Linked DNA regions of Homo sapiens: region 1 is linked to region 2. Evidence: fine-mapped expression QTL. A gene starts in region 2. The other region holds a variant in brackets. All regions are shown on one strand. Distances are between the middles of the regions. Region 1 overlaps SP110 (SP110 nuclear body protein). Region 2 holds the start of SP110 (SP110 nuclear body protein).

Region 1 (4,000 bases), 48 kb after region 2:
GCGTAAATGGGCTTACCTAAAATCTACAAATGAAGGATGTGTTTCCTTGAACTCAAGAGGCCTGAAGGATGCTGGGAGGTTTATTAGAACACTGTGAGTACTCAGAGGGTCAATAATTATTTTTTGACAGTGTCAGGGATGGAGCATCCCTCAACTGACCAGACAATGGCCAGAAATTGGTGTGGATCCCTGTACTATGCCTGGGGCAGTGGCCCATACTTTTTTGTTTTAGTTTAATCCCACCATGTGGAAACACAAACCCCATCCTTTTCTATGAGTTCTTTGTGAGTAATGTCCTGAGTGTGTCAAATGAATTTGCTGAAAGAAGGGTGTCTTCAGGGTGATGTTACACCTGTACTCCTAGAGAATGTCAGATGCAGTTCAAATCCTGCCTGCAAAGATTGTGTATGGTGGCAGAACTGTCGAGGTACCCCGTGGTAGCCAGATAACGGTCTATTGTGTCCCTTCGGGGGTGAAAGCAACCTGCAGCTGAGATCTGTTGAAATAGGCGCTGAACAGAACACATTAGTCAAATCTATGCCTGCAGAGTATTTACCACTTGCTAAGTGGATGGAGTCAGTAATTTCAATAACATTGGGCCATCACAGGTGGGGTCACAGGATTCAGGTTGTAGTAATTCACCGAGAGGCACCATTCATTCTTTCCAAGCCTAAGAACAGACCAAATTGGGCTGTTAAATGGAGAAACAGTGGGGATAATCACCCTTTCTCTAAATAGATCTTCCATAATGAGTTTCAATCCTTGAAAGCCGTGTTTTAATTCATATTGATCAGTATTAAATATTTTAACAGAGAAGGTCCATAGAGTTCCATTTTGTAAAGCCAATTGTAAGTGCCAAAGGTAACTTAATTTTAATTATTTTAATGTGTTATTTACTGGGTCATAGCATCCATGCCCACTGTGGAACATTTTAGGGCCATGTTATGTTACGACCATGGGGCAGTTAGGCAAGGCACCAGGAACAACAGTTCCCATACTCCTGCACCCAAATGCCAGTTATCATCATTTCTTACTTTGGTCAGTCAGATCTATTAATAGAGGCCTGGTGGGCTCAGCAAATGCGCCCAGAGTGGCCCAGCTCAAAGCACAAGCTTGCCAGCAGGCAGCAGCACAGCTCAAAACGCAGCAGAACCTGTTGGCAAGCCACAGCCAGAGAAGAAAAGTCCTGGTGGCGGCGGTCACCACCCAGACTCTCTGCTTGTTGTGCCATTTGTCTTGCAATTTCCCCCAGGGAGGTGGCATCAGCTCCCCCCATCAAAAATTGGGTTTGGATATCCACTCTGGCACACACAAAAATGATGTGTTCTAGAACCCCACAGGGTCAGCATTCGTGGGTCTCCATGGTCCTAGCGGTGCCCACGTTATCTGCCCTTGCAGCGGAAAAACTCGGATGAATGCGAGGTGTGCTGTCAAGGGGGACAACTTCTCTGCTGCGGTACTTGTCCACGAGTCTTCCATGAGGACTGTCACATCCCCCCTGTGGAAGCCAAGAGGTGAGTGGGATGCAGCCCCGCCTCGGGCACACAGCACTCACCTCCAGATGGAAAGGGCAGGACCTGTGAGCGTCGG[G/A]GACGAGGGTGTGACGCAGAGCAGTCTGGTGCCAGAGACTCTGGGCCTCTCTGGGTCTCTGAGACTGCCAGTGAGCCTCTTGGCCCCACACTGCTTCTGCCCCTGGAAGTGCCCTTTCCTAGTATGCTATTCCCTGGACAGCAGGGACTCCTGTCCAAAAGGAGGAGGGGACGGGAAAAGCCAGCTTATGTTCTGTGCCTGTTGAGGAAAGACAGGAAGCACGGCTTGTCACACATTTCACCATAGTCTCACCTGGCTGATGGAGGCCTGAGGTCCCTGCAGGTGAAAGCCCAGATTCTGACACTCAAGCCTGGCAGGCAGGGTTCCTTTGTGCTCCCAGCAGCTCAGACAGGGAAAAGAGAGCCCACACTTAACAGTGACACCACCTTCCTCAGGCTGCCCGCCTGCCGCTACCACTGATGCGAGGGAAGGGCCAATGCTGGAGACCCCATGTGGGGATCTTGGACACTCTGGGAGGTGTCCCACCCTCATGGCTGAGCCCATCCTTCCTGAGGGAAGACAGTGGCAGCCACAGGAATGGTGGCCATTTCCAGGGGCTTTGCCCTCTGCTCACCTTGTGTCCAACCTCTCAGGATGCTGTGGAGTTGCACCTTCTGCAGGATGAAGAGGTCTTCAGGAAGCCAACAGTGCCATCATGTATCTAAGACCCTGGAGAGGCAGATGCAGCCTCAGGACCAGCTGGTGAGTTGGATGCAAACCCCAAACCTATACTTTTCCCTTCTCACACGAGAAGCACAAACAGGCACAGGGTCAGGGCAATGTACCAAAGGGAGCCTTCAATGTCTCCCTTTAAAGGATGACGATTTAATGCCCAAACTCAGAGTCTAAACAAAATCCCACACACCCTGTGCGCCTTGGGAAGCATGGCTGGAATGCTGACTGGGCTTGGCTGCCCCATCCGTGTGCATGTCTAGACACTCGCCTGGCTTCACTGTTTCTAAGCTGCATTTCACTTTCAAGCCCTCTTCACATTTTACAGAAATGTGAGTTCCTCCTCTTGAAGGCCTACTGTCATCCACAAAGCTCCTTTTTTACGGGCATCCCATTTAATGTAAGTCACATTTTACGGTTCTCTTGCATAAAATGCATTTGGAGAAATTTGGGGGCTGATCTGGCAGGTGCTGCAGTTTGCTCAGGAAGCTGGAGAACAGAAGAGAAGGGCAGCGTGGCAGCAGTGGAGCGGGGCAGCAGGGATTTTGCTGCACACTCTGGAGAGGGACTACCTGGTTCAAACTCCACCCCACTGCTCACGGGCTCTGGGATACCGGGCAAGTTGCTTCTCCTCCTGTGTATCTGTTTCATCTTCTCTTTAGGAAGAATGTCTTTCCTACTAGAGATTAAGAGTCACAGATGCCAGCTGGGCTCAGCGGCTCACGCCTGTAATCCCAGCACTTTGGGAGGCCAAGGCGGGCAGATCACTTGAAGTCAGGAGTTTGAGACCAGCTTGGCCAACATGGCAAAACCCCATCTCTACTAAAAATACAAAATTAGCCAGGCATGGTGGCAGGCACCTCTAATCCCAGCTACTCAGGAGGCTGAGGCAGGAGAATCGCTTGAACCCAGGAAGCAGAGGTTGCGGTGAGCCAAGATCGCACCACTGCACTCCAGCCTGGGTGACAAAGCAAGACTCCATCTCAAAAGAAAAAAAAGAGTCATAGATGCCAAACTGTGTGGGTTCCCATCTCAGCTCTACCACTTTCTTGCTGAGACATCTTGGGTAGGTTCCTTGACCTCTCCATCCCTCGGTTTCCTCATCTATGAAATGGGCATTATTATTTATGGTACCCATAAATGTGGAGATTACATATTCATATACTTGGCTTAGAATTTAGTTTATCTAGTGCCTAGAACAATAGCTGGCTTAAAGAGGTCAAATGGTATTATCATTATGACCCTGGAAATGAAGGCTTGGATTGTATTTAAGTTGGATCCATTCCAGTGATGACAGCTGTGCTAACGTCACCTCTGGTGGCTTTGTCCCCAAGATTCGAGATTACGGTGAGCCCTTTCAGGAAGCAATGTGGTTGGACCTGGTTAAGGAAAGGCTGATTACGGAAATGTACACGGTGGCATGGTTTGTGCGAGACATGCGCCTGATGTTTCGCAACCATAAAACATTTTACAAGGTAAAGAGCATTTCCTGCTTCCTTTTTGCGTCTTTTCTACTTTCCCCTAATTTCTGGGACAGCAGAATTTTGCAAGTATTACACTCAGTTTCAGCCTGGGGAGAGCTCAAACAAGACAAGGATTACAGAAAAAAAACCACCTCGGCATTCCTGGAGGCAAGGAGTGAGTGGCAAAAAGAACAGCAAGCAGGACAGGGGAGGGATCTCTGGAACAGAAGCTGAAAAAAACCATGCTCTGTTCCCAGATCGGCAGCTCGCTCCCA
Region 2 (4,484 bases):
ATGCTGGGATTATAGGCACAAGCGACTCTCCAGGCCTAGAAATGGTCTACATCTTGACTGGTGTAGTAACTACATTTGGTAAAATGTACATTACAATGAATAAATTTTATACCTCAATAAAATGGAGCTAAAAAGAATTATGTATAATTTATCTCAGTACATAATCACTAGCATGTGAATTAACAGGTGACGTTTTCCCATTATTACCATGTTCTCAAGCATGCATTTTTTTTTTTTTTTTTTTGAGGCGGGATCTCACTCTGTTGCTCAGGCTGAACTGCTGTGGCGCAGTCTCAGCTCACTGCAACCTCCAGCTCCTGAGTTCAAGCGATTCTCATGCCTCAGCCTCCCGAGTAGCTCGGATTACAGGCATGTGCCACCACGCCCAGCTAATTTTTTTGTGTTTTTAGTAGAGACGGGATTTTGCCATGTTGGCAAGGCTGGTCTTGAATTCCTGGCCTCAAGTGATCTGCCTGCCTCAGCCTCCCAAAGTGCTAGCTAAGCTACAGGCCTGAGCCACTGTGCCCAGCCAAGCATATATGGCTTAGAATAAACATCTTTCATCCTCATTCGCAGCTGTCTTTTTTTCATGTAACAATTTTTGCCTGATTTGACATTGACTTTATTTTCCCACTCCTGCTTTACTTTTGTTTGTTTGTTTTGCATTTGCCTGGTGTATCTCTGAATAGATCTAAAGGAAGAAGTTCTTGCTGCCAGGATCCTCAGATGCCCATGAAGGGGCTTTCCAGGTGATGGGGAGGGGCTTCAGGTAAGTGACATGTGACATTTGCATAAAATAACCTTAATTCCTTTACCACCGCCATCCCCTGCATCACAGCGCTGTATGTTACTGCATGCTGAGGCATCAATGCACCCTCTCCTCAGCTGTTAGCATTGAATTTTTCCTGGCTGTGGCTTCCATGCCTCTGTTTCACCCACAGCCATTACCCGCAAGGCCGGGTCTGCTATTCTGTACATACTAGGGTGGGATATGCTGTTTGTGCCTGCATAGAAGGGCTTGCTCTTATGCAGTTAGCCTTGGTTTCAAAGCTTCTTAAACTTTAGATCCATGTCTCCCATCTTTTATCTGAGGAGTTTGTGGATGTCCTGGTAGGGGAACTTGTGGGTCAAATACATTTGAGAATTATTGATTTAATCAAAGTTACATAGAATTCTTTTTTTTTTTTTTTTTCGAGATGGAGTCTTGCTCTGTCACCCAGGCTGGAGTGCAGTGGTGCGATCTCGGCTCACTGCAACCTCCACCTCCTGGGTTCAAGCAATTCTCCTGCCTCAGCCTCCCAAGTAGCTGGGATTACAGGTTCCCGCCACCACATCTGGCTAATTTTTGTATTTTTAGTAGAGATGGGGTTTCACCATGTTGGCCAGGATGGTCTCAAACTCCTGACCTTGTGATCCACCCATCTCAGCCTCCCAAAGTGCTGGGATTACAGGCGTGAGCCACCGAGCCTGGCCCAAAGTTACACAGATTTCTATAGTGCAGTGGTGCAATCATAGCTCACCGCAGCCTTGAACTCCTGGGCTCAAGCAAGTCTCCAGCCTCAGCCTCCTCACTAACTAGGACTACAAGGTGCATGCCACCACACTCAGTTAATTTTTTATTTTTTTATTTTTTGTAGAGATGGGGTCTCACTATGTTGCCCAGACTGGTCTCAAACTCCTAGGCTCAAGCAATCCTCCCATCTTGGCCTCCTAAAGTCCTGGGATTATAGGCATGAGCCACTGTGCCTGGCCAATAGTTTAGGATTTTTCATAGGCCCCACATGTCAATGTACATTAGGGATCTTTAAAAGGGGCATGAGAAGGGGTGTCCCTGCCAGCCCTTGAGTTACTGCTCTCTGGAATCAGCAGGTCCCAGTTCTGCCTCAGACTCCTGGCTCCCAACTACCTGCCCAGCTCTCAGCCATTTTTCTGCCTGGAGGTCTGCCTGCCTCTGCACAATTCCAGTTCATGTGCAGGTTCCCTTTCATTTCAATTTCTTCCTGTAATAATCTTATCCTGACAAGTTCTAGGCATTTCTGGCACATTCTCTTTGTTTTTTTGTGTGTTGTTAGAGTTTGATAACACACTGGATAAATTCCAGTGAATTCATTCAGTTATGTAAACATCACCACAATCCAGTTTGAGAACATTTTCATCAACCTAAAATGTACAGAATGAGGACAAGTCATGGGAAAATAGATGTGGTTAGGGAAGCATTTGGACGCTGAGTTCCCAGTTCCTATTGCCGCTGGGGCTGTACCCTTATGCCTCCTCCTCCCATACCTCCCTCTCTGGGCTGATCCCAACTGGCAACACGCCCTCCCCCAAACCCCAACTGCCAAGACGTCCTGGGAGCCTCACAAGTGCCCATGAGGAGGTGGAGAGAGGCTGCAGGCACCGACCTGCCTTCAGCTTCCGGCTTGGCAAACTCCGAAAACTTTCACTTTTCTTTTCTCGGAAGCCCGGCCCCTTACTGCGTTTGTCAAAGCACAGACTTCCTGTTTTGCCTGCTAGCATCTCCCTGTAACTCTCCCAATCTTGAGGAGTGATCCCTGTCCCAGCCCCTGGAAAGGGGCAGGAACGACAAACTCAAAGTCCAGGTGAGTTTCTGTCTTTGCTGCTTTATTCTTCGCTCTTGGTGACTGCAGCTCTTAGAGTTAACTTCGCGGCAGCAGCTGCAGGGTGGAGTTCAACTATTTAAACTCTGAGGCTCTCTCAGAGCTCAGACATGTGGTACTTATTAGGAGACTGTTAAAAGGGGGCACATGGAGGGAACACTGACACCTCTTTTTTTCGCCAGAGTCCAGCCTGTTATTGTGAATGGAGCCGAGATTTGCCCTCTACCCTCACCTAAGCTCTGATCCTTCAGTGCCCGCAATAGGCGGCTCATCTGTTATCCATTGTGTAAATGACTAGAGGTACTTGGGAAGCTGGTGGAAAAGAAAAAAATGAGAGTACATTTAATTTCGTCTCTAGTGTATCATGAACTTTTTATATATTTTCTCTAAATACATGATTATTTCCTTGAAATAAATTATTAGAAGTGGAAATTCAAAGGAGCACATGTTTTAGGACATTTGACACTGATTACTAAATCAGCCTTCAGAACATTTGGACCTGTTGACCTTCCCACTCACAGTGTCTGAGATTATTACTATTATTTTCTATCTTGGCCAATTTGATAGACAAATATGTTATCAAATTGTCTTCATTTACACTTTTTTTGGTTGTTTGTTGTTGTTGTTTTCTGAGACGGAGTCTCGCTCTGTCACCCAGGCTGGAGTGCAATGGCACCATCTCAGATCACTGCAACCTCCACCTCCCAGGTTCAAGCGATTCTCCTGCCTCAGCCTCCTGAGTAACTGGGACTACAGATGTGCACCACCACGCCCAGCTAATTTTTGTATTTTTAGTAGAGACAGGGTTTCACCATGTTGGCCAGGCTGGTCTCGAACTCCTGACCTCAGCTGATCCGCCCACCTCAACCTCCCAAAGTGCTGGGATTACAGGCATGAGCCACCATGCCTGGCCTTCTTTATGCTTTCTACTAGCTAGTTAACATGCTTATCGTATTATTCATTGCACATTTGGCTTATTCTTTTATCACTCTCTGTTCATGTATTTTGCTTTTTTATTTTCTAGTTGGATGTTTGTCTTTTGCTTATTCGTTTGCAAAATCTCTTTACATAATAAAAATCTGAACAGTCATATATGAGATGTAGTATCTTGCATAGAAAGAAACAGGGCTTTAGAGTCAGACAAGCTCTGCTTTGCCACTGAATACCTTGGGTGAGTTACTAAACCTCTCTGTGCCTCCCTTTCATCTTTGGGACTCATGACAGATGAAGAATGAGGAAGCTCTAGACTTCCTGTTCTGAGCGCTGCTGTATAATGAATTGTTCTAAAAGGAGCCTCCAAGACCCCTTCCTCTTCTTAGTATATGTTTACTCTGCCTTTCTCTGACTTTGCACTGATCTTTGCACTATCTCCTTCCCCTGTGCATATTGTGGATAGTAGATTTCTCTCCTATCTGTTCTCTATCTTCCAAGACTTCTTTACCACCACAGACTCTCAATGGCATCTTTTCTTGTTTTCCTATGCGATTGCGGATTATTCTTTTCATGAGTATTTTTTTCTGCCAAGTTAAAAAAATTGGGGAATGAGGAGAAAGAGACTAGGGTGCTTAATCTGCCACTGGGATTAAATCCCTGTAAACAGTTGTTAATTACGATTTACTTTTCTGTTCAACACAAAATGAAGTTGGAAAAGTGGAATCCATGTTTGTTCTGTTTGTTAAAAACTGTCAAGTTGATTGAATGTTTTGTTAGTGCTTTTCCTTTTCTTGACAATTTGTCAAGAATGTCATTTGTAAACTTTCTTCCCATTATAACCTATTGATATCTCCTCACAGTCCATAAATGGCCAATCTTTAATACATGCTGCATGGGCATGGGAAAAGGCGCATGTCTGAGACATGAAATGGT

Evidence for each region. PIP is the estimated chance that this variant, and not a neighbour inherited with it, causes the effect.
Region 1: its variant is fine-mapped to the expression of SP110 in whole blood (TOPMed, PIP above 0.99).

Annotation. Positions count from the first base shown.
Region 1 is chr2:230,170,358-230,174,357 of GRCh38, reverse strand. SP110 (SP110 nuclear body protein) reads left to right here. Exons shown (of 19, transcript NM_080424.4): 15 at 1,399-1,514; 16 at 2,184-2,292; 17 at 2,591-2,662; 18 at 3,597-3,737. Among named protein-coding and RNA genes, the nearest start is that of SP110, 48 kb to the left of the region's middle. The variant G/A (reference allele first, on the strand shown) is at 1,591.
Region 2 is chr2:230,217,990-230,222,473 of GRCh38, reverse strand. It overlaps SP110 (SP110 nuclear body protein), which reads left to right and starts at 2,490. Exons shown (of 19, transcript NM_080424.4): 1 at 2,490-2,600. It also overlaps a transcript of SP140 not described here. RefSeq lists a silencer at 2,378-2,564 and an enhancer at 2,282-2,761.